Linked DNA regions of Homo sapiens. The protein of the gene in region 7 purifies or fractionates together with the protein of the main gene of each other region. This does not show direct contact. Each region holds a gene or a part of one and is shown on either strand. Other genes may lie near its edges. The genes, in order: KATNB1, GIT2, PLEKHA6, ARHGAP32, UGGT1, DCAF6 and PFDN1.

The links.
Region 1: the proteins of PFDN1 (region 7) and KATNB1 purify together in Homo sapiens (co-immunoprecipitation; 2 studies listed by BioGRID and IntAct, with this or other methods). This does not show direct contact.
Region 2: the proteins of PFDN1 (region 7) and GIT2 purify together in Homo sapiens (co-immunoprecipitation; 2 studies listed by BioGRID and IntAct, with this or other methods). This does not show direct contact.
Region 3: the proteins of PFDN1 (region 7) and PLEKHA6 purify together in Homo sapiens (affinity purification with mass spectrometry; one large-scale study listed by BioGRID and IntAct). This does not show direct contact.
Region 4: the proteins of PFDN1 (region 7) and ARHGAP32 purify together in Homo sapiens (co-immunoprecipitation; 2 studies listed by BioGRID and IntAct, with this or other methods). This does not show direct contact.
Region 5: the proteins of PFDN1 (region 7) and UGGT1 fractionate together in Homo sapiens (co-fractionation; one large-scale study listed by BioGRID). This does not show direct contact.
Region 6: the proteins of PFDN1 (region 7) and DCAF6 purify together in Homo sapiens (co-immunoprecipitation; 2 studies listed by BioGRID and IntAct, with this or other methods). This does not show direct contact.

What each region holds. Positions count from the first base shown.
Region 1 is NC_000016.10:57,748,826-57,752,769, reverse strand, and holds part of KATNB1 (katanin p80 WD40 repeat-containing subunit B1), read right to left. Parts: intron 1,944-3,944; coding exon 1,843-1,943; intron 1,510-1,842; coding exon 1,468-1,509; intron 1,130-1,467; coding exon 1,046-1,129; intron 831-1,045; coding exon 715-830; intron 241-714; coding exon 169-240; intron 1-168.
Region 2 is NC_000012.12:109,947,502-109,951,445, reverse strand, and holds part of GIT2 (ARF GTPase-activating protein GIT2), read left to right. Parts: intron 1-129; coding exon 130-279; intron 280-2,599; coding exon of another isoform or gene 2,600-2,623; exon of another isoform or gene 2,624-3,941; coding exon 3,942-3,944. UniProt on the Homo sapiens protein: GTPase-activating protein for ADP ribosylation factor family members, including ARF1.
Region 3 is NC_000001.11:204,258,882-204,262,825, forward strand, and holds part of PLEKHA6 (pleckstrin homology domain-containing family A member 6), read right to left. Parts: exon of another isoform or gene 3,079-3,944; intron 2,628-3,078; coding exon of another isoform or gene 2,568-2,627; coding exon 2,425-2,567; intron 860-2,424; coding exon 377-859; intron 1-376.
Region 4 is NC_000011.10:128,964,972-128,968,915, forward strand, and holds the end of ARHGAP32 (rho GTPase-activating protein 32), read right to left. Parts: coding exon 3,936-3,944; 3' UTR 89-3,935; downstream 1-88. UniProt on the Homo sapiens protein: GTPase-activating protein (GAP) promoting GTP hydrolysis on RHOA, CDC42 and RAC1 small GTPases. May be involved in the differentiation of neuronal cells during the formation of neurite extensions.
Region 5 is NC_000002.12:128,191,917-128,196,338, reverse strand, and holds the end of UGGT1 (UDP-glucose:glycoprotein glucosyltransferase 1 precursor), read right to left. Parts: 3' UTR 662-4,422; downstream 1-661. UniProt on the Homo sapiens protein: Recognizes glycoproteins with minor folding defects. Reglucosylates single N-glycans near the misfolded part of the protein, thus providing quality control for protein folding in the endoplasmic reticulum.
Region 6 is NC_000001.11:167,935,381-167,939,844, reverse strand, and holds the start of DCAF6 (DDB1- and CUL4-associated factor 6), read right to left. Parts: upstream 3,163-4,464; 5' UTR 2,934-3,162; coding exon 2,837-2,933; exon of another isoform or gene 2,773-2,836; intron 2,767-2,772; exon of another isoform or gene 2,593-2,766; intron 1-2,592. Other genes in the region: MPC2 (mitochondrial pyruvate carrier 2), read left to right, coding at 4,004-4,112. UniProt on the Homo sapiens protein: Ligand-dependent coactivator of nuclear receptors. Enhance transcriptional activity of the nuclear receptors NR3C1 and AR. May function as a substrate receptor for CUL4-DDB1 E3 ubiquitin-protein ligase complex.
Region 7 is NC_000005.10:140,299,988-140,304,585, reverse strand, and holds the start of PFDN1 (prefoldin subunit 1), read left to right. Parts: upstream 1-1,484; 5' UTR 1,485-1,512; coding exon 1,513-1,545; intron 1,546-4,003; coding exon 4,004-4,170; intron 4,171-4,598. UniProt on the Homo sapiens protein: Binds specifically to cytosolic chaperonin (c-CPN) and transfers target proteins to it. Binds to nascent polypeptide chain and promotes folding in an environment in which there are many competing pathways for nonnative proteins.

The DNA.
Region 1 (3,944 bases), on a different chromosome or scaffold from region 7:
GGCGAGAGATGGCCGTGGGTCCTGTGGCACCCAGCCTGGTCCCCACCCCGAGGAATCCAGAGGGCCCAGGGCAGGGAGGGCGCAGCAGCGGAGATGGGAAAGGCCCACCCACAGCCACGCCCCACTGCCGGGAGGAGCGCTGGGCCGCCCACCCCACAGCCTGCGTACCTGACGGGCCCAGGCTCCCCTTCGATGCAGCTCACCACCTGGAACTTCTCCAGGTCCCAGAAGCGGATTGTCCTGCAAAGGCAGCCAAGCTGTGCTGCGAAGCCTATCCCTCATCCTGGCCTCCACATGTCCCTGGGAAGCCAGCTTTTCTCTAGAAACCTCTCCCCCAGGGCAGGGCCACCAGGAGCAACATCTGGGGCAGAGCTGGCCCTGACTTTGCAAGGGGGAGGCTCGGCCCGATGGCCCTGGCCCCAGGGTTGGCCCCAACAGCCACGAGCCTCCCTGCCCTATGGGGTCCCACTAGATGCCTTGGGTCCCAACCTGCCCATGAAGCCACAGACCTGGGACACTGGGGCCAGGGAACCAGAGCCAGGGGAGATGGACCAGGGTCCAGTCCTGGCTCGGCTGAAATCCAATTCAGTCCACACAGGATCATCAGACGTATGACACCCCAGACAGCGACAGACCGGCAGTAGAGACACGCACAGAGGACAAGGCGGTGAAGGACAGCAGTCACAAGCAACTCGCCTCGCTCCTCCTCCTCACCTGTCAGAGCTGCCGGAGGCCAGGAGGTACTCGTTGGGGTGAAACTCGACCACGTTGACAGGCCCCGTGTGACCAGGGAACTCAGACATCATCTTGCCGGCAGTGAGATCCCAGAGCTGGAGGCAGGGCAGGGAGGAGGTCAGGGTGACCAGGCATCTTGGCTGCCCACCCTCCCTCTAATCCAGGCCAAGCTCTTTATCCACAAGCTACCTTCCACTCGGGATAGGCTTGGGACATGTGAGCCCGATCAGGAGGGAGGTGAGGACTCAGCCTGCTGTGATCAGCAGACCCCAGCCCCCAGCCCCTGGGCCCAGGTCAGGCCGGGAGCTACCTTCACGGTGTGGTCATCTGCGGCCGACGCCAACCACTTCCCATCGGGGCTGAACCGGAGACACCGCACGGCCTGGCTGTGCCCCTGAGGGAGGACACGGCATGAGCTCACCCTGGGATCCTGGGCCCAACAGACCTCTCCCTGCCTCCTCACTCCTATGGGACCCCTTCCATCTAACAACACTGGTTACCCGCCTGGTTCTGCTTGGAGCAGTTTGATGAACGTGGCTCTAGGGGATTCATGCAGAGCCAGGGGATCCAGGTGGGCCGCCCATGGCGCTCCTGCTCAGCTCCAGGTCTATGTTTTATGTTATCACCCATGTGGGACAGCCGTCCCCTCCACCCCCTGCTGGGGTCTGGGCACCACACCACACTCAATGCCCGCAAGGTGCTCATGGAGTCACCGACAGAGCGCATCCTTACCCTGTATCGGAAGACACAGCCTTTCCTCCTGATGTCCCAGAGCTGTGGGGGAGAGAGAAGCAGAGGGGCAGAGTCAGGAGAGGTCAGAGCCACGACTGGAGGAAGGTGTGCAGTCGTGAGCAGACGGTGGGGCCCAGCCTTCTCTAGGTCGTTACTCCCCACGGAGACAAGGACAGAAACTGCTCACTAAAGCTGGCATTCTGAGCAGAAGCATCTGGCAGATAGATGCCTGCCACCCGCTTTCCCTAGGATGGTGTGGATGTGGCTGCAGAAAGGGAAGAGGTCCCCTCAGCAGGCATCCAGCACTGAGGGCCGGGCCGGGCTGGTCCTGCCACAGGCCCAGCAGGAGACACGGGGCACGGACCGGCCTCTCACCTTGATGTTTGTGTCCTGGGAACCAGAGGCTACAAACTCGCCGTACGGGTGGAAATCCAGGCTGCAGATGTTGGCTTTGTGTCCCATGAGTGTGCGAAGAACTAACAAGAAGGAAAGCAGAGACAGTGGCTAAGAGGCAAATGAGAAGGCTGGCAGAGGAAGGGCTGCTGTGGGCATTTGTGTGTGCGCTTTTGGATTAGCTGCACAGAAAAATAGAACAATAACACACATTTTTAAAACAGTAGGAAACAATCAAGGGTCCCACCACCCTAACAACGAATTTTCTTTTCTTCCTTTTTTTTGAAAAGGAGTCTTGCTCTGTCGCCCAGGCTGGAATGCAATGGCGTGATCTCGGCTCACTGCAACCTCTGCCTCCCGGGTTCAAGCAATTCTCCTGCCTCAGCCTCCCAGGTAGCTGGGATTACAAGCATGTGCCACCACACCCGGCTAATTTTTTTATATTTTTGGTAGAGATAGGTTTTCACCACGTTGGCTGGGCTGGCCTCCTGACCTCAAGTGATCCACCCGCCTTGGCCTCCCAAAGCGCTGGTATTACAGGTGTGAGCCACTGCGTCCTGCCAACAACTAATTTTCCCACATTTCTCTTGAGAGGTGACAGCCCTATGTTACCTCAAGTCTGCAGAAATTGTACCACACTCTCCCCACAGACTGTGCTCCAGCGGAAGCAGAACCAGGGAACCACCACACTCAGTTCAGGCCCCATGGGTGTGGAGCTTATGGTTTGCAGGGCACTGAACCCCACCCAAGACAGTGCAAGGAGAGAGACAGACCAGGAGAGGTTCAAGCTGGGAGAGAAGCTGCTTGGTTGGAAAGAGAAATCCAGGAAGGCTTTATGGAGGAGGTGGTATTTGAGTAGATGTCAGTGGGTGGAGGATGAGGGATGCTGTTAGGTAGATGGAGGTGATGGGCAAAGGCCCTAAGAAGGGCAAGTGGAGGGCATGGCTGGGGTGGCCCTGGTGCACACACCAGTCTTCTTGGGTGACCTCTGTCCAAGGGATCTTGAGGGTGGCTGTGAGGACACACTGAGGAGCAGTGAGAACTGAGAGGACACAGGGAGGACACGCGAGGACCAAAGAACTCCTGGGGTGGGGCCTGATCGCCTCCCACTGCCCTAGGAACCACATCTCCTATCCTTTCCTTGAAGGTTTTGCAGGCATCTCCATGGCCAGGAGCGGCCCAGCCTGGAGGCAAACCTTGTGTGTTTCAGGGTGTCCTCCAGTACCACTCAGATTTGTCTCATGTTTCCTGCTTTTGGAAAGATTCATAATTCACTATCTGAATGAAACTGACCATCCCAAGTGCCAGGGTCAGGAAATGTGGGAGTCCAGCCATTCTTAGTTTTGAGCCAAGGTGCAATAGGTCACCTTGTGAGGTAGTGAGCTCTCTGTCAGAGGAGGTATTCAAGATTCCATATATAACACTTTACTGCAGAGTCAAGATCCAAGCACTGGGTGAATTAAATGAACTCTACTGTATGATCTTCTCTACCCCCAAAGTCAGGATGTGGGCTCTGGCATCAGACAATACTGGGATCAGCCTTGGCTCCGCTCCTCACTGGTGGTGTGACCCTGGCCAATCACTTACTGTCTTTGGGCCTCATGTTGGGTCACAGAATGGAGTAAACATACATAAAGTGCTTAGCACGGGCTCTGCACATGGTAAGTGCTCAATAAATGCCAGTCTTAATTAGTCCCATTCACATTTCTTCCTGCACAAGGCCTGCCTTCTGCTCTTGGCTGTCCCGCAAGCTGGGCCTTCTCTCCTCCTCCCCAGGCCTCAGTGCCCCTCTGCAGCTGGCCCTGTCTGGCGCTGGAGCTGGGTCTGGATACTTTCACATCCCTCTGGAGTCTGTCGAATGCATATCCAATTCACCTGCACCAGAATCTCTGCAGCTGTCACTCCTTGCTCCGTGTAGCTATCAGGTGCTGCTGGGGGCTGGGCATTGCCTCCTGGCCAAGGAGGCCACGCTGGCTCTTGCTCCAGTCCACACCCGCTCCCAGCCCACTCAGCTTGGATCCCACAGCAAGGCTTCCAAAATCCTGCCCTGCCCAGAGAGGATGTGGCGGAGTCCCACCCTGTGT
Region 2 (3,944 bases), on a different chromosome or scaffold from region 7:
AGAGGCCTTGATTTGGTTTGACTAACTTTGCAATTCAGCTGGCTTGGTCAGAATTTGAAATTCTTGAGCTGTTAGTCTTTAATGTTCTCGTCATCTCAGATTGTGAACGTTTTCCCAATTTATTTTTAGAGCCTAGATTCAGATTTATCAGATGGACCAGTCACTGTACAGGAATTTATGGAGGTCAAAAACGCTCTAGTGGCTTCTGAGGCCAAGATACAGCAGCTAATGAAGGTGAATAACAACTTGAGTGACGAGCTGAGAATTATGCAGAAAAAGGTAACATGTTAATAAATGCCAGGACGGTTGACGCTTTAATCCCATAGTACAAGGAAGAATCTCAGGCACTGTGATGTGGTCCGAGGAAAGAAAAACAGTTATTGTAACAGCCTTAGAAATCTTTGGGCCAAGTTGTCTTTTTGAAGCAGGATGTATTTGGATATTTAAAATGAAATATATCCAGAGTAAGTTCCCCAGGTAGGAGAAACCTAACATCTATTTAAGCATTTGTGCCCATTAGAATAACCCTTGGACTATTCTGTGCTTCCTGGAAACCTGGATGGGGCTCCATGGATGTGATTCTTCCCATTGCTAGGGAAGGATGATCACACCATGGAGACAGAGCCAATGAGAGCCCTGGGCAGGGGCATGTTTATCAGCATTCAAACCCTGCTCCCACCCTGGCAGCCCTATCCCACATCCCCACCTTATTGCTCACCAGTTTTTACTACTAACTTGTATTATCCCCAGAGCCTACAGGAGGGCCTGCCACAGAGTAGGTGCTCAAAAAATAAGAAAAAACATTTCATTTGTACTAGGAAGAGCTGCACACTGGTAAAAAACAATCTCATTTGCTCAGCATTTTCTCATTCATTACCTTTTGAGAGAATCAGAACCGTGTGAATATATTAATCCCTAAAAGGAGTGTGGTTGATGGTAGCAAGGAATACCCTTAGTAGGAGGGGGATTGTGTATGCAACTCCTTATGAGATGGCTAAATAAGGGAATTCGAAAAATTGCAAATTTTGCCCATGACTTTGTGGGTATCACTCATCATTCAGCTCTAAAATGAGATTTGGACACTTTACTTAACCAGAAACAAAATGAAATATATAATCTATGTCTTTAGGCTGTCATTTGAGAAGTAAGGTTTTCAAATCATTTTCAAGACCTGAGGACGTGGCACACTCCATGTGTGCCTGGACTCTTTTCAGTGCTGCTTCCTAAAGGAAGGTGGAAGAACTAAAAAGGGGCCCATGCCCCTCTGTTTACTAGGGAAGGAAATTGCTGTGCACTTTTGCCTGGGGTTTGGTCTAGGATTCTTTTGATGTTGACTTCTAGAGCATTTTTGAGACTTTTTGAAATAAATGGCTCTAATGCCTATAGTAGCAGGGAATGAAGAATGCTTAAGATCAGCTAGCCTTAAACGAACAGACACTTGTTCTGTGTCTCCCAGCCCTGTCTAGGGCTGCCGTGCAGCTGTAAACGAGACAGACCGAGAGCCCCTTTGTCATAACATACAGGACCTGTATTTTCTTTGCCTTCTTTGGAATATATTTTATTTAGTGGATTATAGTTTGTTCCATTAATTGGACTAATAATTTTGACCAGGTGACTATTTCTGAAACATGCTGATTTTGCCACTGTAAATCAATCTGCTGCACATCACCTTTTAAAATCTAACAATGCTTCTTTTAGTATTTTTGGAAATCACCAGAGAGAGCCTCATTATCTCTGAAAGCAAATGTCTTGAGCTTCTTTGAGAAATGCAAAGTGAAATTATTTGCTTTTGCTTATTGATTATCTCATCAATTCTTAGAAGTGCTTTTGATTTCTGAAACTATTGAATTGTCTATAACTTTTTATTTTCCCTTATACTCCTTCCAAATAAAAAAGTGTAGCCTGGTTCTTATTAAGATAAACGTCATTAAAATTTATGTGAAGACATCTCTCTAAATACAGAGTACTAACATTTTTAAAAATTGAAACCAAGAACTTGTGCTCATGAGAACACATTCAGACAAAATCCAGGCATGAAAAGTGTTAGGATAAAGTTTCAGATTTCAAGGCCTTAACTAAATAACTGCCACAGAGGCTTTTTATACAGACAAACACGTGATCACATGCACCAGTGCCCCATTGAGGGACCTGTGTCAGTTACACACCTCAGTCCTTGAACCTTGACCATTTCACTCTAGGCCCTGGGTTCTCTAATGAATAGTTTCAACAGGCACTTCATGCCTGTCTGTATCCTGGAATGTAGAAATGTTCAGGGCTGCTTTGTCAGCTGCTTTGCAGCTGTTCTTTCCCTGGAAAGGGAATTGCAGATATGAGCTATACCCTGCCAGCCTTTGTGATATAAAAGCATTCTATCATTCTGTAATGGCTTGCTCTTCAGAGAAACAGAATGAGTGGTCTTTTTGTGGAAGAGGCAGTAAGTCACACTTTCACAGCAGTTTGGCATGATTAATATAAAGTATATGGAATTTGTTTATTTAGCAAAGATGTATTGATTATATTTCAAAGTTGGGTAAAGTTTTTAATATACATAAAGTTGACAAAGTAGCATGATTTGTATCTGATCTTTCACATTTAACAGTTGCTTGGAAAAGATGCTAATTAATGAAGAGGAGCAACTACTATTGGTGTATTTTTCACAGATTGGTGCTTTCTAAATAAAAATTGAAAGTAACTCCTAACATTGAATGGGTTTGCTACTGAAAAAGTAATGATCTTCTGGTGCAAACAGTTGCTTGTGGACTTAAACCTTGGCACTGGTGGGGAATTTGGTCAGATTTTACAATCTCTGTCAAAGAGTAGACAGCTGAACTCACACCACACCCAGCTTATAGAATGTCCATGGAAGATGAAGGCGCACCAGAAGGGAAGGACCCTGCGCAGAATGGACGTGGTGAATGGTGTTTAAAATGCCAGATGCCAAAGAGTAACACGATTCCCTGCTGACCCCTTAACTCTAATCCATCCAGCACCATGGAGCAGCCTGCATGTGAGGAATGGAAGGAGCATTCAGGGCCTCCAAGTGACAGTCTCTAAAATGGGGTGGTGCCAGGCAGATTAGCATGTTCAAAGCTGACACCACTGAGGTCGTGTTTTTTGGGTGACAAAGCCAAAGGAGAGAAAGGCCAAATATTCCAGCCCTGGCCGAAAGATGATCACTCACCAGACGGAAGCAAGCGTGCTGCGTGGAGCATCCATGCGAAGATGTCAATTCCATAGATCAATAGGTTTCCAGTTTTCTTCGTGATATGTTAATATAGCAAACTTACCATGATCCGGTTTTCTCTTTTTTCTTTTTTTTTTTACAAAGTGCTGAATTGTTTGGAATATCAAGAGTATTATGTAATAAAAACTTGTTGATCATAATTTTTCTTGTTGGCTTTTTGGAAAGCAATAGGCGATCTGATTTTTCACAAGCTGAACTTCTGTCTTTCTTGCTTTGCAAAGCAACCCTAGTCATCTTTGTGCTGCTTCCATGGTGTCTGCTGTCATTTTTGGCCTTTACAAATTGCTCAGGGCTCATTTGAAAAGCAAGTTACCTAAATGATGTTTTAATGATCTCGAACTCTTGCTTGAAACAGCCTTAGTAATAATCCAGTGTACAGCTTGCCTGCAAACATTTCCCAGCCCCACCATGACAAATTTTAAAGTGGTTAGACATTTTGTTTTGAGGAAGTCCAAACCACAACTTTTCCACATTCAGAAATGAAGCTATTTAATTTGCTTACGTGATGAAGGGAGTTGATTGTGTTTCACCCAATCCAGAAGAAAGGGTCCTTGTTTGTATTGGCTTTTTACTTTCAGCCCGGCTAGCTGTTACTGTCCTTATTGTTTAAAACTGGTAGTTGTATTCATTTACTTGGTGTTTGCTTTTTCTGCTTGCTGTAAAAAAACACAGTCCCACTGCCAAACATTTCTTTCAGCTT
Region 3 (3,944 bases), on a different chromosome or scaffold from region 7:
CTGGGGAGAGGATGTTGTAGGAGGGCCCATAGCTTGGATGGATGTATGACTATAACAACTTCAGGCCCCCTCCCAAAGCCTGCTGTGTTCTGGGCTCCCCAGCACGCCGTGGAGAGGCACTGGGGCACTCTGTCCCTTCTTCTGAAGGAAGCAGACAAAGAAACCAAGAATCAGGGACAGCAGCCAGACTCTAATGGTGGAGCCATGGGGCAGGCAGGATTTGGGCAAGCCAGGAAGCATGGGATTTGCTTGGTTTCCCAACTCAGCCTGCTTCCAGAAGGTTTCCAACAGGGGATGCCTCGTGGGCTATGACCCCACTCGCACGCTCTAGCCATAATACCATATCAGCCCCACCCCAGCCGCCGGCATGCCTCACCTCCGAAGGTCTTCAGGCGGGGGTACCCCCCGGCGCAGATTCACCCACTGCTGAAGCTGGTTCATGGAGCTCTTGCGCTGGGCAATTTTGTCAGGGTTGGTGCGTGGTGGGAAACTCCGCCGGTGTCCCCCAGTCTCTCCATCCTGAGACGGGAAAGCTGTGCTCCCTGGCCGGCTTGGGGAGTGGTACTGCCAGCCATTGGGCTGGGCAGGCTGTTCCCCACCCCCTGGCACTCTTGGGCCCTCGGGGTAAGGGCTGCCCGGCTCTGAGGCTGGCTCCGGTCCAGCTGGGAGGCCATTGGCTTTCACCGGAGGCTCTTTCTTGACTTCTGGCCTCTCAGGCCTTCTCTCTGCCTTCTCACAGCCTCGGCCATCACCCTCCCCTCGAGTCTTGGCCTCTGGCTCAGGCTTAGGGAGGCTGTTGTGGGGTGGCTGCTGGTGGTGCTTGCTGGGTGGGACGTTCTCCGAGTCTGGCTTCTCATGGCTGCAGGATGCCAAGGGAGATGCTGTCAGTGACTCTAGCCCAGCATGGAGTGGGGCAGGGGGTGCCAGACTGGGAAGAAGAGGAGTGGGGAAGGATGGGCAGGGAGGTGGCTGGAACCAGGATTCTATGAACTCCAGTTCTGCTTCCTAAGTCCCACCCCTTCACCTTCTCGCTCCAGCCTGGGAAATTATTATACAACCTAATCCGCCCCTGCCCACACCTGCTGTGTTAACTCTGCCCCCCACGTCTTCTCTGCAGGTCATTCTCCACCCCACTCCCCTCTGTCAGTCTGCTTTGAGCCCAGCCTTCAAGCTATGGCATGACTAACCTCACCTAGTCTTGGTCCTCTCTGCGATCTATCCCTGACCCAGCTCCCCAAACTGGGTTTGCACTCACATCAGTAACTGTCCTTGATACTCCAGTGACAAAGGCTTGTCACGGGGCAGCTGTCTTTCTTATAGAAAGTTATTTAACTGCCAAGAGTCTTGGGCTCCTCATCAGCAGAATGGGCATAATAATAGCTCCCCTCCTAGGACTGCTGTGAGATAAAACATGGCGGGCACCAGGAGCAGAAGTTTCTGCTTTCAAACTCACAAGCACATAAACACGCTAGTTCCCTTCTCCAAAACACATTTCTTCCAGGACTGACTTTCCATGAGAATACAGGCCCCACAAGGGTAGGAACATGGCAGACTTTCTTCCCCTGTGTTCCTAGCACCCACTACAGTGCCTTGCACATTTATATTTACAGTAAGTATTTGTGAAATGAATGAATGAACTCTTGGAATTATGCCCCTTGGTTGAAGCGAAGATGGAAATTTGTGACAATTTTCCCCCTACAGCTTCCCAAACTCCACATATTCAAGTGGGATTGTTGAAACATTGCTTGGTAAACATTTCTAAGATATGTGGACTTGGAGCCTACACTGTGAAACCCCCTTTTCCTGGATCCCCCTTAGCACCTAACTCAAGACTCCACATCCAGTTAAGGGAGAGACAGACGCTGAGACCGTGGGTGACGGCGGGCGATGGGAGCGGCCATATGTTAAGAGTTTACTGCATGTTGAGTGTTTTACACGCACTCTGTGTAGGCCTCACAACAACCCTATGAGGTAGAGTTGTATTTGCTGGTTTTTGAGCAGAGGAACCTCGGGTTCAGAGAGGGTGAGTCCCTTGCACTGAGATCACGCTACAGCCAAGTGGACAAGGTGTGATTCAAACCTGAGTTTATTTTCCTCCAAAGGCGGTGTGCTTAACACACACAGCCGAGAAAAACCAGCAAATGACCCTGACCTCTGGCTCCTGGCCAGACCCCAATGGAACCTGGCTTTTCTCTTGGCCTTCCCGAGCTCAGAGAGAAGAGGAGGAGCTGGCTAGGGGAAGAGAGACTTCAGGCTCTGAAATCACTCAGCCAGGCCTCCCGCCTGGATGCAAGGAGACGGCTCACACATTCTCCAGGGCTTCAAGTAGGCACACTGGGATTAGCAATGGCCCAGAGCTGGGTGTGTCTTCCATTCCCCTCTTTATTCTTCCTGCACCCCCACACTCAATTCCCTGGCACTCACCTGTGCCGCACAGCTTGGGGCACTGACTTCTGGGCTGGAGGGATCTGTACTCGAGCAGCCTCCCCCATGGCCTGGATCCAGGCCTCTTGCTCCTCGGGGCTCTCGGCACTGAAGAAGTAGGTGCGGACCCCGGCATGCTCAGCCTGTGGGGAGAGGCAGCGTGTGGAGCTGGCCTCGGCCTCATCCACCCAGCACACAGTCACCTGTTGGGAGAAGACACCAACGCCCACAGAATGGGCAGTCAGTTGGGCCATTCCCTGCACCTGGGGCTCTTCCCCATGCGGAGCTCAGGAGCAAGGTGAAGAGGGCAGCTTGCAGCTACCCCGAGGGTTCCAGCTGGTACCCACGTATCCACCTTGGCTGGCTCTCTGGGCACCATTAGGCAGCCCAATAACCAGGTCAGCCTACTTGCCCCACCTGGGGTAATTAAAGCAGGAGGGACAATGATCACACCCATTCTCCCGGCAAATTCCATGTTTGATTTCAAAGGCAATGACCCCATGTCTGGGAGAGAGGACCCCCTGAGCACATGCCAATCTTAGCCCCAGCTTCACTGCTGAGAAGCTAGCACTGTCTCTTCCACGTGGAGAGACAGCCAAGCCCCTCTCTGCAGGCATGCAAAGCAGGCACTGGCATACAGATGGGGCACACTACCTAGTTGGTGGCTGCGAGCAGGTACTGCGGGCGGGAACCCAGAAGAGAGCTCCTGTCCAGAGGAGGGGTCCTCACGCGGTCAGAAGGAGGAGAAGCAGAGAACAGGTCAACCAAACACCAAAGGGAGAGACAGAAGACGACGTGGCAGGAAACGGTGAGGAGCACAGGGAAGGGGGAATATTCAGATTGTCCTCTTCTACTCAGCATTCCCCCGGGAATGGCAGCACCCAACAATGCCCAGTTCTGCCTACCAAGGGGTGGGGAGTGGAGAGCTTGCACCAGGGAAATTCAGGCTGGTGGTGGAGAGTGAGTCAGGGAATCGCAGTGCTAAGCCTGGCTCTGCTCCTGACCAGCTCTGCAACTGCAGACAAGTTGTGGTTTTGCTCTGGTCTTCACTGATGCATCTATTTCACGGGAAAAGAGTCTGCCTGGTGAAATTCAAAGTTCTTAGGCCACAAGGAAAAGAGGCCACAGGACTAAATGCTTTCTGGGACCTCAGCACACTTCCCAGTGAGATCCTCAGTAGCCTAGCTTAGCCCACTCAACAGGGGACATCTAGCAGTGATTCAGAGTCTCGGATGTGAGCCTCACTCCAGCCTCTGACCCCTTGAGCCCTAAATCCTGGGTCTCTGGGGGTTGAGATAGCTTCAGGGCTCCCCTGAACAGCAACGTCAAGCCCACACCCTCTAAATGCTCAAAAGATTCCTCAGCTGCAGCTGGTCCCACCTCGCCTCCACCTGTCCCCAGCCCTCATTTTCTTTCTGACAGGAGCCATTACCCAGCAAGAGGCAGGGGTGGGCCTCCTTCCTCTGGTCCCCACCCTCCAGCAGAGGGCTTAGCATGTAGGTGTGGGAGAGGGCAGGGGA
Region 4 (3,944 bases), on a different chromosome or scaffold from region 7:
CCTTTGGTCCTAATTCCCCAAATCAATCACCCCCACTATCTCATTATAATTCATATTAGGTCAAAAAGGAAACACATACACAAAGCAGTCTGTTTTAACCTGAAATAATTCTGTTGATATTTGAATCACTTTCAGTGGGACATTTGCTTTAAACCACAAGATATCTCCATCTCCAGGTACAAAAATCCCTTCCTCCCTCCCCTGCCACCCCCCACCCCACCCTGCAACCAAAGAAACAAACAAAACCCAAACCCACAACTCAGCTTCAAATAAGTTTGCAAGAAATGAGACTCTAAATATTTACATATGGGGCAAGAAATAAATCACAAAACTATTTACAAAAATACACAAGCTTATATGCATTAACAATTTACACCAGTTCACAAAAATATTAAGACATAAAAAAACACTATATAAATTAAAATTAAAAACTCAAAAGTATGATCTAAGACTTCCTAGGATGCTTCTCTCATGCAGGTCATGGTTGAAAAATCAGGTTTTGCTATCTCAGAATCTAAACTGTAAAACCATTTTTATTCTTTGAACATTAACAGTACTAATCAGATAAGGAAAAAAGACCCTCTGTGCACACTGACATTATCTTGCACACGTTATAATACACCATTCCTGACATTTCTGTAACACACAGTGCTGAAAATCACATGCCTCTAACCATGTGGAAGAAGTAACTGTCTGACATACTTTTGCTTTCATTATTACTTTCTTACACATTCTGCTCAAGCAGTACTTTGCCAACATCCTAAATGGGTGACTGACAGGGCTGAAAACAGAGAAATGGACTTTGCAGGCTCCTTCTTTAACTAAAGGGGCAAATTTCAAATTTACATCGTTTGCATCTATTACTGCTCCAAATGTGGTAACCTACTCCTCCGTCCCCACTCACGTTAGTTAACAGTCCCTCCTCTCTACAGAATTAGTCCTAGAATTTTTCAACCTGACCCTAAATTTTAAAAAATGCTTTGCCATTGTAAGAAATGTGCAGGCCCTAGTCGTGGGACCATCCCAGGGACTTGCAGGTTTGAAACGAAATTGAATATAGTAAGAAATAAGGCTCCAATGAAATTTATTAATAAGAAAATGGCACCTCTGGGATTGTTAGCAAAATTTTTAGCCAGACGTCCAGGGAATATTTATTTCAATCAGACCAAACTGTGGAATCAGAATTTTGCCAAAAAGATAAAATCTGGAGGCATGGCTATGAAAATGTCAATAGGATTAAATCACGGGTTTAATGTATAAGGCAGCTCCATTTCCTTGATCATAATGCTCCATGTCAAAATTTGAAAGTAATAACATTCAGTTACCCCATTTGTGAAGTCCCCCATTTGTGAAGTCACACACAAGGTGGACTGTGCTGAGGTATCCGGCTCACAGTGATTTGCCATCCGGTTTCCACCCCACAACATTAGAAAGGGAAAGATGCCGGAAAAGTGTTTCAAATAACTGAATCCAAAGTTAAGGCTGTTGCTAGCATGCATTAAATGAAGCAACTCTAGATTTGATCTGAAGTTTGTGTTTCACGCTTGTAACAGTAATTGCAATCATCATTCTGTATTCAAATATTTACCTGATATTTCTAAACCCACAGGACATTTATTAATAAAGAAATTGTTTCGAGGAATTAACCCTACTATTTATAAAATAGGTTTTAGTTTCAGGACTAAACAATGTGTGTGACAACAAATCCACAAATATTAAAACTGGACCGGACTCCCTGGGTTACTTTCTTTAGGCTCTCAGTTACTTAAAGCCGTGTGTATCTCCTGGTCACAGCAGCCCCTCTTCCTAATCTCCATGCTGCTGGTGAGAACTTACAGGGCTGGTGTGGTCTCCAAGGGGCAATGGGTTGCCTACTTGACAAGAATATGATTAAGGTAAAAAAAATTAGTGCCACATATTCACCAAAGGTCATACTCCTGTATGTAGCACCCAGGGTGTTTTTGTGCCAAAGGGAAGTATCCTATCAGGTTTCCTAGCACTTTGACTGTAAAACAGTTGGTTCTGCACTTTTAATGTAGAGGCCTCAATTTCCACAGACCTTTTCACATATGGGTGTTTCAAGGTTTCTACTACAGTTTTTACTGCATCCCTCCAATGAATTCTAAGGGAACAAAAGAAAACCTTATAGAATATTTCCACATATCAATGTGTTGTTCTTGAAACATTTTATTTTTTTCTAAATATAAACCCTTAAAATGCACATTATTTTTTAAAATAAAAACTGGCATGAATCCTAATCTTTATACAATTTCACAGCAATAATAGCAGCATGATTTTAGCCTCTTAAAAGATTTCCTCCTTTGCTCTAAATAAAAATTAATTTCAAGTTCTAAAAAGCCAGAGCAGCAACCATCCAGTAATTGGAATGCAATTCTCCTAGTGTCTTCTACAGACCGAGCATTTAAAATACGTGAATGTATAAAACTTGAGTATTATTAAGAGTTATGGAATGAAATGACAATCTAAACTCGTTTTGTAAACATAGGACTGCCTTGCTAGTCTGATGTATTTTGGGGGGTGGAGGGAGCTGAGAACATAGAATGGAGTTGGGCTAGAGAGTTCCTACTCTAATAAGGAATGCAACTTTCAAAACTCGTGGGTGTTAAACATGTTTTACATGTCTCCAGAGTTATAAAGAGCTATACCTGAAATGCTGGTGTAGATGGTAATTACAAGAAGACTGTGACCACACAAGTATAGAGTAAGCAAACGACAGTAATGCCTTAGGACAGCAATAACTGCCCAGAACTCCACTGGTGAAACGGGGCTGTGAACTAAGCAGTTATTGCAGGAACTTGCAGTCTAATAATAGATAATGCGTAGCTACTTAAATTCCCAGGGACCTCGTACTCTGGTTTAGGAACAGAAACAAACATGGAAATTTATATTCATAATAAATTATGCGTGTCTATCCAGTCAAACCATGCTGGGCTTTTTTTTTTTTTTTTTTTTTTAATGAAAGAAAGTTGATAATTTAGGAAAACCAATGGTATGACATGTTTTACTAGAATTACAATTCACCAAATCTTATTGAGGGGTGGGGTAAGAAGAAAACCTGAAGGCAGGCAATGCATTAAAAGCATCAATAGAGATTTCTGGTGCTAATAAAGTTCACTGACAATAAGAACTTTACTTTCTTCCACCTAAAGAAGTTTCCTTAAGTACTAACTTTTAAAAGTCCATTCTGTCATGATATGAGCCTGTTCACTGAACCGTGAGGAACAAGGATGAAAAATAAGAATAGAAAGAGTATGGTTCAGCCTGAGTCTAAGTGGTCTGGTGTTTTATGATGACTCTACCAAATGTTTAATTTAAAGTCTTAATTTCTTATTTTTAATTATAATGTTGCCAACTGTCTGACTGACCTTGAAGGATCAGGGATTTTTCCACGACTCTAACTGAACACAAGATCCTTCTCAGACGGGGAGAATGAAGTGACAACAGTGTGTCGATCTGCGCAAGTTGTGCAGCTACTGAAGGAGAAGCAGGAACACAACAGGGAATGCAGACGCCTACCAGGAAATCGATGTGAACTGCTCTCAATTATGCAGCAAATACTAAGAAGAAAGGACAATGCTGAATTCAAATTCAGTTAAAGGCAGTCCTCAGGCTCTTTCAAGCTAGCCCTAGATGGCAAGTGTGTCCTGAGACAGGTTTCTCTACTGGGTTTCAGCACGGGGCTTTACCATCCTTCAGATCTTTTCTAAAGACAAAAATGACAAAGTCTATAGATGGAAGAGGGGGTAATGAAGCAGGGAAGGGGAAAAAGATGCTGATTTGTTTACTTTTATTATCATTTTTTAAATGTGGTCAGGGGTTTTATAGTATTTTTTGTTTAATCTTTTTGGTTATTGAAAAAAATAGAACAGTCCACTGTCCAGCAGAGGCTGCTTCAACTCTATTGCTCGCAGGGCTCATTCTGC
Region 5 (4,422 bases), on a different chromosome or scaffold from region 7:
CCCCTGAAGGGCCTTCTTGTGCCCCCAGGATCAAACCCATTCCCCCTCTCCTGGCCACGTGCAGGCTTCCATGCAGCTCCCTCAAAAACACTAGCTCAAGCTCCTCCCCTCTGCCCACCCCTCGCCCCTACTTAGTCCTCAGGCTTCAACCTAAGCACCACCTCCTTGTAGCAGCTTAGTCCTGGTCCTGCACCTTAGGGCCCTCTCTTGCGCCTTCACAGGCACCAGGTGCCCCTCCCCGCCCTCCCCATCATCACACAGAGACTACATCCTCAATGCATATCCACCCCGGAGTAGGAGCTCAGAGAACTGGCAAAATGCAAAGTCCATGCCACCCTCCTAAGGAACTCTGCCGGCCCAGGGGTCTCATGACACCTTCTTGCCTTGAGGTTCCCCCTCCCACCCCACCTGTTATGCCTGCCTGCCAAGTTCTGCCTGGGGCAGCTCCCAGAGGTTGAGGACCTGGAGGAGACCTGGGTGCTTTGGATCCTCAGAATCCAAAGAACTGGATGCAACCCGAAGCCAGCCCCAGCAGCAGACAAGACTCAGGTAAAGCCCTCGTTCCTCTGTCTGGGTTTGCAGCTTCTGCTAGATGAAGGGGTTGGACTTTGTGCTCTATCAATCTGCCCTTCCTAAACACAAAGGCCAAATGACTGCGCAGTTTTAAAGAAGAGAGGAAACGTTTACTGTGTTGAGCAGACCTTATTTTCATTACAGTACCAGGAAGTTCATTCTCAATTCCCTTCGAACGCAGAGATTCTGCAGACATTTAAAAGCCCAATGCTGTTCCCAAGCAAGAGGCAGCACCTGACAACAATGCTGCATTTAATGGAGCAGGATTACAGTAACATTGGATATTCATAAAGAAGATTTTTAAAGTACACAGTTTCCTTAAAAATTATAACATTTTCCCACCTTTATTTTATTATTACCACGAATAACTGGTTGGTTGGAAAACATGGTACTTGATAATCTTTTGTTGTCAACCTTAAGTTAATGTATTTTGCTTTCTGCTGTTGTTGTTAAGAGACGTTATGCCCATTTCTCTGGAAATCTCAATGGTGACAAGTAAGGCAAGGCATACAATACATTCCTGTCCCACTGCAACCTTCCACAGCTAGCCTCTGCACTGCTGGGTATCTGGGAAAGACTCAGGAGAGGACCTTTTGCTTGCAAATCCTCAAACTCCTGACCTCGGGTGATCCGCCTGCCTTGGCCTCCCAAGGTGCTAGGATTACAGGCGTGAGCCACCACGCCCGGCGCTTGCAAATACCGACCACAGAGTTTAACCTTCATGGGCTCCTTCTAGGAAGCAGGCAGCCACTTGCCACAGACTTTGCAGTTTGTTTTTATAAATTGTCACTGATCAATGACAGCCTGAGGGAATGGGACCCTCTACTCAATTCATTGACTTCCTGCTTCTACTGCCTCCCAGAAGTGTCATTTCATTTCTGTATATAGAGAAATGAAAGACCAAAGAATGAAATGAGAAATCTGTATCCTCTAGGCATTTCAGGTATATACCCTGAAATATCAATAACCACTGAAGTTCATGATGTCTCATTTGCTTGAATTCAATCAGTTAATTACCAAAATACTGATTAAGATCTTTCCCTCACTACCTCAAGGCAGAGAAAACATGAATTTAAAGAAGTTATCTTACCAAACTACACACATGACAAGCTTTATTTGATTAACTCCAATCATCCCACAAAAATGTGCCCATAAAATCAAGTACTTAAAAAACTAATTATTAAAATTACACAACAATGGGACAGGCGCGGTGGTTCACGCCTATAATCCCAGCACTTTGGGGGGCCGATGCGGGTGGATCACTTGAGGTCAGGAGTTCGAGACCACCCTGGCCAACATGGCAAAACCCCGTCTCTACTAAAAATACAAAAATTAGCTAGGCATAGTGGCAGGCACCTGTAATCCCAGCTACTCAGGAGGTTGAGTCAGGAGAATCTCTTGAACCCGGGAGGCAGAGGCTGCAGTGAGCTGAGATTGTGCCACTGCACTCCACTCCAGCCTGAGCAACAGAGCGAGATTCTGTCTCAAAAAAAAAAAAAGCAAAAATTAGCCGGGTGTGGTGGCGCACACCTGTAATCCCAGCTACTCGGAAGGCTGAGGCAGGAGAATCACCTGAACCCAGGAGGCAGAGGTTGCAGTGAGCCAAGGTCACACCATTGTACTCCACCCTGGGCAACAAGAGCAAATCTCTGTCTTGAGGGGGGAAAAAAACCACGCAACAATGGAATACATATATTTAAATAACTGCACATAATACACCCTCCATTTTTGTTACCAAGAGAAAGCTTCCATCAGGTAGCTTTACCAATACATTTCCATTCCCATGAAATGCAATACCACAGTACTAATATTCTATTCAGAAAAAGACTACAATTCCCTTGTAACTCTTTTTCTTTTTCCCTTGTAACTCTGAGTTCTTTCTTTTAATCGTTCAGGCCACATAGGTAAGGCCATTTTAGAAAAGGACTGCTTTCAAGTATCTAAATATACTTCCGGAGGGCGGGGGAGGAAGGGAGTCATTTTACACTTGTCACTCTCAGGGTGATGTCTGACTGTCCAAGTCACGGGGTCAGTAGAGCAGGTTTCCTGGCTAAAGGAAACTCTGGGAGTTCTTTCCTCCCTACCACCTGGGCCAGTCTCTTCCCCCTGTCCCTAGCTCTTGGCCCTCTACTCAGGGACTTGGTCCCCACAATCAGATGAAAACTCATTCAGGCAGAGCCTTGACAAGGTTCAGAACACGAGGGCTTGACCGGACATAGTGGCTCACGCCTGTAATCCCAGCACTTTGGGAGGCCGAGGTGGGCAGATCACCACCTGAGGTCAGGAGTTTGAGATCAGCCTGGCCAACCAACATGGTAAAACCCCATCTCTACTAAAAATACAAAAATTAACCAGGCATGGTGGCAGGCGCCTGTAATCCCAGCTACTCAGGAGGCTGAGGCAGGAGAATTGTTTGAACTTGGGAGGCAGAGGTTGAAGTGAGCCAAGATCGCACCACTGCACTCCAGCCTGGGTGACAGAATGAGACTCTCTTAAAAAAAAACCCACGAGGGCTTAAGGACAGCAGAGCAAATTAAGCTCCATTTATGGAAACTGTTTTAATTTTTTTTTTTTTTTTTTTTTTTTTTTTGAGACGGAGTCTCGCTCTATTGCCAGGCTGGAGTGCAGTGGCATGATCTCGGCTCACTGCAACCTCCACCTCCCGGGTTCAAGTGATTCTCCTGCCTCAGCCTCCCGAGTAGCTGGGACTACAGGTGTGTGCCACCATGCCCAGCTAATTTTTGTATTTTTAGTAGAGACGGGGTTTCACCGTGTTGGCCAGGATGGTCTCTATCTCTTGACCTCATAATCCGCCCGCCTCGGCTTCCCAAAGTGCTGGGATTACAGGTGTAAGCCACTGTGCCTGACCGGAAACTGTTTCTTAACATACATCATGCACGTAATCTTCGCTCTCCCAAGAGGCATTCACCCAAGCAGACAGGCAAGCATCTATGTGTTCAATTCGAAATGCAACAATGACAGATGTACAACTTTACCACTCTTAAAGAAACTAACATGCCATCCATTATTCTCCATGTGGGAAACATTCAGTAAACTTCTAAAACCAAACACAGGACTCTGGCATATCCCCACACCCCCAGCAGCAGGCTGTGACAGGCTTTGATCTCAATCAAATGCCACTGTACACAGAACATAAAAACAGGCTCAGGATGCTGCATGTCACTCTGACATATCACATTATTTCATATTACTCTGTCACTTACTCACAAACAAAAGTCTCCACTATGGCATGATTGAGAGAGAAAATAATTCACTTTATATAAATAACAGCTAAGAACAACATACTGTGAACAGTTTCCAGAGTTTGAACATTCAGCACAATCAATTCTTACTTCTTGGGAAAAAAATATCTTACCTATCTTTTCTGTTACAGTATGCCTTCTTGGAGAAAATATTTTAGTGGTAACATCATTTTCTGGGGCATTTGGTTAATTTTGAAAGATGATTATGCCACATGAACCAAAAAAAAAAAAAAAAACTGGCAGGAGGAGGAGGGTCCTAGGCCATTCTGGAAGCAAGCTGGGTTTTGCATTATTCAGAGTCAACTATTAAGCTGACTTATATTAGAATGGCGACAGATAAGAGGCAATGAGTGACACCAGGACATGCACAGCACACAGAGAATATGGTCTACTCTTGTCTTCCCTGCACAGATTAAACATAAGAGGCTTGGTAGAAAGACATGGGGAAAGGTGCTATGGGGGCCAGCATTTGGAAAGCATATATCCCAGTGACTTGAGTATTTGCTATGCAACCTCCTGGACGAGAAACTGGGAAAAGGCACACTTCCGCCCACAGTTGTGGACAGCAGCAGTCACCCGTCTGAAT
Region 6 (4,464 bases), on a different chromosome or scaffold from region 7:
GAAAATCCTAACTTGGAATTTGACTTTTAAAAGGAAGGCTTTATAAGTGTACCATACTTTATTTATTTATTTATTTATTTATGACGCAGAGTTTCCCTCTGTCGCCCAGGCTGGAGTGCAGTGGCACAATCTTGGCTCACTGCAACCTCCACTTCCCAAGTTCAAGCTATTCTCCTGCCTCAGCCTCCCAAGGAGCTGAGACTACAGGCGTACGCCACCACTCCCGGCTAATTTTTGTATTTTTAGTAAAGACCAGGGTTTCACCATGTTGGCCAGGCCGGTCTCAAACTCCTGACCTCAAGTGATCACCCACCTTGGCCTCCCAAAGTGCTGGGATTCCAGGCGTAAGCCACCGCGCCCGGCCAAGAGTACTGTACTTTAAAAAGTCATTTTATCTAATAATAAAAATAAAATTAATAATAATGATAAAGTCATTTTATCGCCACACACAAAAAAAGATGGTAATTATGTGACATGATGGATATGTTAATTAACTTGATTGTATATGAAGTTATCAAGTCCTACACCTTAAATATAACAATTTTTAATTGTCAATTATACCCCAATAAAACTGGGAGGGAAAGTCATTTTTTAAAAAAAACCATCACTAATTCAAACATTACCAATGTGGATTTTGCTGCTTCCTGAATGCAAAGCCAGGATTAGCACTGTAGTATAGAAGAGCTGAATAACAGTGTAAAGGTCTACTAAGGGTAAAGGCCAATAAATTAGTTCTTTGCAAACATTTTCAAGTTTCGATACTTTCAAAAAGTATTTTCAAGTACTTAGAAAACCACTTTTAAAGGAAGTCATTCCAAAAATGTCCTATTTTAAGAGTATATATTATCATATCTAAAATATTATTTAAGATAAAGAACTCCCTGTATGTATACATACACATTTGAAAAACTGTAATTCAGGCTTTCTAATATAGTCAGTGAACCCTTCAATTCCCCTAGACCCAATACACAAATTCCATTTCCATTAGGGAGTTGGAGTAGGAGGGGGAAAAGCAGGTATATGGTTTTGTTATATTTTAATTAACTCGTTTGTAGATATAGCTGAAGTAACTGAACCAAAAGAAAACACTAAAATATAGAACTATATACAAGTACTTAAACTGTCCAACTGAGATAAAGGACCAAATTATAAATGTATCCATGCAAAACAATGTTAACGTTTGTTTTATTAAGCTAAAATTAAGTTCTTTCTCCGCAAATAAATTCTAAAAGAAATACTGCACACTTTTTTTGGTAAATAGTTTTAAAAACCAGACTCCAGCTATGTTCAATTTTAAAATGATTAATCACCACTCTAGGTACTTATCCTACAACAAATGCACAGAAGCTTGTAGAATGATGTTCATTAAAATGCTGTAAGGGCGAACGTCTACTTAAAGAAGAAAGGTTGAGTACCCTATGGTACTTCATAATGTTACCTACTATGTAATAATTTAAAAGACAGAATCAATCTATTTTTACTGCCATGGAAAGATCTCCAAAATGTGGAGAAGTGAAAACAATGTTTACAATATGACACCATGCACTCAGGTGTCTCTCTCATACACACACAAACACACACACACCCCAGCATTTGTACATGTACATATGTACTTGTAAGAATGCAAACAAAAAGGTCTGGAAGAATATTCAGAAAACAGAAAATATTATTTCTAAGGGTGGCGGAGTGAAATTGAATGGGAGGGATCAAAGGGATTTTTGCTTCATTTTTATTGAGTTTTTATAAACAAAATGTATTCGTATTTTACTTGAGACACTAAAAAGAATTAAAAAATTGCATGCTAACTTTTCTTAAATAATTTACAAACCAGAACTGTTGGTTGTAATGAGATTTCATTTTCTTCTCTTTACTTGAAATCAAAAACAAATGAGAGCAACAAACACTTTTTAACTAGCAAGTGGCAAAACTGGAAAGAAAAAAATTTTATGATGTTGTTTGCCGTATCTCCAAATAGAAAGAAAGAGTAATGAAGAGTATACAGGAAGAAACAAAAAAGACCTTTACTAAGTACGTCCATTTTTAAGAAACCAAACTTTTTAGTTGACTCGGGCGTGACCTAGAATCCTCAAAAAAAAAATGTTATGCAAAACGAAAAAAGTGGAATACTGTTCCCCCAAGTACTGAAGGTTGTTTTTAGAAAGCTTAACTACGAAACTGTAAATGCCAAGTGTGTTTTCCAGGGGTGGGAAGAGGAACGTGAAACCCTACACCACCTTTAAGCGGTCAAAACGAACTGAAGAGCAGAGTGGAACTGGGAGAGCGCGCGGGGGTGGGGAGAGCTCAGCTATCACTTTTAGGTTTTGGCTCAGCGCCGCAAAAACAGTTTACACGGATTCTGTCTGGAGCGTGAAGTCCCTGAGGGTGGTCAACGCGTCGCAGCCGACACCTAAACCCTCTGGAGATTGAAGGAGAGGGTGGGCAACAACTTAGGTTCTTCGGCTGAGCGGGGAAAGCGCGCTGGAAAAGAGCAAAAGAGCTAACTTTTGCTCTAAACGCGGCAGCTCCTGGAGGTTCCGCAAGTCTCCCGAGTCCCAACCCATCAGCGACCCCAACACCTTTACAAGCCAGTACCTTCTGCCCACGGCCCGGCCCTCCGAGAAAAACCCAGCAAGGGCGGCGGCTGGCAGCATGCACAGGGGGCTTGACTGGGGGAGGCACCGGCACGGAATTCGGCAACCAAGGCCCCACCCAACACCCCAGAGTCTCCGGGCGCCCCCACCGAGACGCCGTCCCACCTCCAACAGACCCGGCAGCGTGCCCCCTCCCCCACTCTAGGCGGCGACCTCAGCGCCTCCGCCCCGGGGCCCCCGCTCACCCAGGTAGCGACTCCGCAGCCGGGACGGGTCCTCCAGCCCGAGGGACCTTTTCCTCACGTCCCACAACAGGTGTGGGTAGGAGCCACCCCGAGACATGGCTCTGCCTGAGCCGGGTGGGAGGGGAGACCACCGCGTGGGGGAGGGGAGGAGGGGGAGGGGACACCCGTTTCAACACCCGAGCCGCACCGGCACCATCCGCGCGCCGGGCCTCCAGGGCGCAGCGTTAGATGGCGGTGGCAGCAGCGGCGCCTGGGCCCCTGAAGCCCGGCCGCACCCGGGCCGGAGCTCGCCTCATACTCTCCTTCTTAGACTAACCAGAACATCCAAAGATCAGCAACAGTCTCCTCCCTCAGCCCCCCTCCAACAGGAGGAGGCGGAGGCGGAGGCGATGGCGACTCCTCCCTCTCCTCGTCCTGGATACCCTCCCCGCCAACCCTTTCTCGCGAGATGACGACCACCCTGGGGACTGAGGCTGGTGTGTGCTGCGGCTGCCCTCACCCTGGAAGAATGCATTCGGGCCACTCTAACCAGATCCTTAAGTCGCTAGGGATAAAAGACGAGTAGAGAGAGAAGCTACTCAATTCTGTAGTCTCTCGCTCACGAGTCTCCAGTGAAAAGAAGCAAGAGAATTGTGCGGCATCATCTTTAGGCACTGAAGGCCCAAAAACCCATTTTAACTACGGGCCTGCTTAATCAAAGTGAAAGGGCAGTAGAACCAGCGCAGCTTCACTTTCCCTTCTCCAACATGGCCTCGAGGGCATGGGGAGAAGGAGGAGGTTTCCGCTCGACCCCGCCCGCGCCTCGGGGCGGGCCAATCATGGCGGGCAGCTCGGCCTGCGCAAGCGCGCTGCCAGCAGGGCGCAGCGCAGACTTGGTGAGGTGATTATTTTGGCACCTGTTGCCATGGCTCCTCCCTCTCTCCTGCCGGGGGCCGGAGGCGGACCGGGGGCTGGCAGTCGGCAGCCTCCGCCCCCTCAACCTTCGCGGGGCGCGGGCCGCAGCTTTTCGGTTCACAGCGGGCAGGGAAAGCCGCGGGAAGGGTACTCCAGGCGAGAGGCGGACGCGAGTCGTCGTGGCAGGAAAAGTGACTAGCTCCCCTTCGTTGTCAGCCAGGGACGAGAACACAGCCACGCTCCCACCCGGCTGCCAACGATCCCTCGGCGGCGATGTCGGCCGCCGGTGCCCGAGGCCTGCGGGCCACCTACCACCGGCTCCTCGATAAAGTGGAGCTGATGCTGCCCGAGAAATTGAGGCCGTTGTACAACCATCCAGCAGGTAATGGACCCTGAATGGCTCCTTATCGAGACCTTCCTTCTCGCTTCCTCTAAAATGGACCTTTTAGAGGCCCTCTGACAACTGCCTCTAGAGGCATCCACAGCCCCAATCCCTTCCCTTCAAGTGAAGCCGTCTACTCTCCTAGCCTGTGCATTTCACCCTCTCTCCTGCAACATCTCTTCCTAAGCCAACGTATCTCAAGTCAGCTCCCTTCCCCACCTATGTGACATCCGCTCCCTTACGCACGACTCCAACCCAAACCTGATCTCCAGATTTGAGCCTTCTCAACTTCTGCGGCCACCAAACTGTCTGGGGCCACCATGAAACACTCATTCTCTTTCTCTTTTCGAAT
Region 7 (4,598 bases):
GTCTCTACCAAAACTACAAAAATTAGCCGGGCGTGGTGGCAGGCGCCTGTAATCCCAGCTACTCGGGAGGCTGAGGCAGGAGAATCACTTGATCCTGGGAGGCAGAGGTTGCAGTGAGCCGAGATCGTGCCACTGCATTCCAGCCTGGGTGACAGAGCGAGACCCTGGCTCAAAAAAAAAAAAAAAAAAAAAATGTGGCCGGGTGCGGTGGCTCAAGCCTTTAATATCAAAGCACTACAGCACTTTGGGCGACCAAGGCGAGCGGATTGTTTGAGCTCAGGAGTTTGAGACCAGCTTGGGCAACAAGGTGAAAACCCGTCTGTACAAAAATATAAAAATTAGCTGAGTGTGGGTGGCGCGCGCCTGTAGTCCCAGCGCTACTCACGAGGCTGAGGTGGGAGGATCGCTTGAGCGCGGGAGGTAGAGGCTGGAGTGAGTCGTGATTGCACCATTGCACTCGAGCCTGGGTGACAGAGCAAGATCCTGTCTCAAGAAACAAACAAACGTACAAAAAAAAAAAAAAACCCCACAAAATATCCAAGTGACTTGCTTAAAGTCACACAATTAGTAAATGGAACCAGACATAGGCTAAAGGCAGACCAAGCCTTGAATCTAGATTAGGCTGGTTCCAAATTCCCTGCCCTTTCATCTCCCTAACAGTTTGTTTTCTTTCTCTCTTTCTTTCTTTTTTTAAAAAATAAAATAAATTTCCTAATTATTTATGTAGCACTTTCTCTTAGCATAACAGTTTTTAGAGTAGGTTAACTTTTTTTTCCATTTCCAAAAGTCAATTATTATCTATTCTGGTTCAAATGCCAGGTCCTTTTATGGCAGAGATTCTCAAAAAAGTGATCCGCGGAGGAGTTGCACCATTAGGTCACTGGGGTAGTCTGCAAAAGTGCAAATTTCCAGACCCCATTCTCAAAGATTCTGAGTACGTTTGAGATGAGACCCAGAGAACCTGCATTTTTTTGTTTTTAAACAAACGTATTCAGCCTCTCTTGAGAACCACTGTGCCTAGAATGTCTTTGGGAAGCTTTTGGAAGTAATAAGTTCGTTTTGGAAAGAACACTCCAGACAAGCTTTCCAATAGTCTTTCCCAAACTGTCATGCCTGAGGTTCTGGACTTACTCTTACTCATTCCTGAGAGCACAGCGACTAGCTGAAGGACTGATCGACTGATGAGGGTTTGACCTCATCTACATACATCTCAATTTAGCAGCACATATTAAGCTAGCTGGCAAACTGCTTAAAGCCACATGGGAAATCTGCGCGTTGGGCTATGTCTGGAAGATACGGAGGAGCAAGCCAGACCTGACCGGTCAGGTAGTGAAGACACGGAATCCGAAACCCAAATATTTCAGGAGTCAATTCTCAGAGAAAGATAAGAAGCCCGGTTAGTCCAACTCATGCGCAGGCGCAGAAGAAAGACCGGCGCACAAAGTAAGACGCGCCCTTCCCCACCCTATTTCAGTCCAACTCCCACTGCGCAGGCGCTTACAGTGCACCAAGATGGCCGCCCCCGTGGATCTAGAGCTGAAGAAGGTAAAAGAGGGTCTTTGGCAGGCGGAGGTCTTCTTTTTGGAGGCTGAGGGGACTATAGACAAGAATATCAAGTGAGGCACGAGCCTTGCAGAAGGAAGGAGGGTCCAGTGGACTAGGGAATGGTTTCCCAGAGTCCTAAGGCCTCACTGGGTCTCCATAAACGGGGTGGGGGGCGAGCGGCTCTTGCTGGGTAGGAGCCGGTTGGTCTGGGTCGGGTAAGTCTGCGGGCCTGTCTCGGGCTTGTCCAGTCTTTCTGAGCTCCAGAGACATTTCGTTGCGTTTGGAGGCTTCAGGGACTCACTTTCATAGTAAGAACTAAAGAGAGCATTTCAAATGGGGGTCCCTTCGGACCCCTTGCCTGAGCTGTGGCATCCGTAATTCTGCCTCATTTGCTTTGAAAAACTCCAAGTCCAACCTTTGTTTTTAGGCCATTTATTCGGTTCTGTACCTTGAAAGTTGCAATATCTACAGTTCGGAAAACCAAGCATTGTAGCAGCAATGTTCATTTCAGGATTTTGCCCCCCCTCCACTTCTTTTGAAGGACTCGTCAAACAAAACAAAACAAAACCTCCTTCTTTTGAAGGAATTGTCAAAAACAAAACAAAACCAGTAAAGTTTTCCAAATAAAACCGGTATCGGAAGGAATTGGGTTTCCTGTTTTCCTCAGTTGCTTATAAATGTGTTGTTATTCAGATTTTTGCTATCTAAGAATGATCAGCATTCTAACACCACTAATGACCCCAAACCAGTATGCTTTGTGCGGTGGGGTGGATTGGAAAGGACCCTAGAATTTATCTATTTTAAATCTACTTTTCTGGAAAAGGAACCAGTGCCAGAAAAGTCTGTCAGAAGTTGGGACTAGAATCCAGTATTCTCTGCCTTATCTCACACTTTTTTGACCACTATTTTGAGTTCTTCAGATGAGCAACATCTTAGTTAAGACTGCCTGTGGTCAACTTGTGTAAAAGAAATAGGACAGCCGAAATAGCTGTTGCTTCTAACAAATGAAGCTTTTGTTAGTGTTGTGAGGATATTATGTGTTTGTGTCTTGCTTTTGTTCTTCTTGTCTTGAATCTTGTAAATTTAGCTCTTAGGTGGAGTCTCTAATCTTTAACAGTATACTAGCTCATCTTTAATGGTATACTAGCTTCCTTAGCAAGCTGTATAGAGCAGTCAGATGATACCTGGAATTTTACATTTCAAAACAAAATTGTGCATTCTAAAAATTTACCTTTTCTTCTGTTAAAAGTACCGATTTAAATCAGGGTTTAGTGAATGGATTTGCCTCCCGGTACTTTTGAATTTATTGCTACATTTGAAACTTGCGGGCGGTGAATGCAAACTAAGAAAATGATTACAAACTTAAAATGAATAATTTTGATAACCAATTAATTAAAAAACTTGTTTAAAGGTTTTATCTTCTAATGTTTTTACAGGGTCCTTTTTTTGGGTGGAGACAAATAGGAAATTTCAGGCCCCTCCCCTTCCCCAAAGTAAATCTTTCAAAACCTTACTAGTAGGTGAAAACAAGGTCACAATAAAAATTATGTAGTAGCCTTTGCTGTGCATTGCAGTCACAGATGTTATTAAGGCACAAATTTAACAGCATGTGAAAGTCATTCCAGGCACTTCAACAAAAGTATCCAAGAACTGTTTATCTTCCAGTTAAGTAAGTGTACGCAAGGGTCAAATTTGGCCTGGTATCTGTGGATGAAGATCATGATGCAATTCTTTTGCCAGTGCTTTGCATTTTTTCTCACTCTCTTTCTTGGTCTTCCTCTTAAAAATGTTCATATTATGAATATTACTATAGACAGTGGAATGGAAAGATTGCTGAACTAAGGGGTTAGAAGAAATGGATTTAAATAACACCTGCCTTCCCCCCAGTAGTTGTTCAACCTTGTGCAAGCCACTTTTATCTCTTAACTCATTTGGTTACTTAATTTGTAAATTGTGGATGATGAGACTGCCAATGCTAACTCATGGAATTACTGAGAGGCATAAATGAGATATTTATTATATTTCCTCATTAATATTCTTATATTAATATTCCCATGTTAATATTTCAAACTAATGTGAGAAAGTGCTTTGAAACCTAATTGTGCAATACAAATGTAGTGAGTTATTACTTTTATGGTTCTTGTTTTGAATCTCTGGATTTCATCCTTGACTATTGCATTTATTTCTTTTACTACTCCTTGAGTACTTGCTACTTAATATGGTTATTACTTAATATGCATTTGATTTGCTTCACACTGATTGTATCTTCTGATGATTGTAAATTCAGTATTTAGTATGGTGACTTGATTGTTTACAGTTATGTTGACTTTTATTGATGTTTGGTAAATTTCACAGCTTTGTCTCTGGCTAGCATATTTTGTTTTAATATATTTGGATTTGAGGTAAATGTTTCCTGTAAAATGTTTTACCTACTAAATCATGGACTTGTTTTTATTAGGCCTTCACAGAGCTTCAAGCCAAAGTTATTGACACTCAACAGAAGGTGAAGCTCGCAGACATACAGATTGAACAGCTAAACAGAACGAAAAAGCATGCACATCTTACAGATACAGAGATCATGACTTTGGTAGATGAGACTAACATGTATGAAGGTGTAGGAAGAATGTAAGTAAAATGTGTCCTTAATGGAGTTATTTTGGGAGTGCTTTTGTCCGAGTTAAATAGAATTTGTTCATCTTAAAACTTGGGTTAGGCCAGGAGTGGTGGCTCATGCCTGTAATCCTGGCACTTTGGGAGGTCGAGGCGAGTGGATCACTTGAGGGCAGCCTGTTGGCCAGTATGGTGGAACCCTGTATCTACCACAAATACAAAGATTAGCTGAGCATGGTGGCACTTGCCTGTAGTCTTGGCTACTTGGGAGGCTGAGGCAGGAGAGTCGCTTGAACCCCGGAGGTGGAGGTTGCAGTGAGCCGAAATCATGCCACTGCACTCCAGCCTGGGCAGCAGAGCTAGACTCTGTCTCAAAACAAAAGAAACTTTGGTTTAAAGTAAGTATCTTTTTCTTTTTGAGACGGAGTTTTCGCTATATCGCC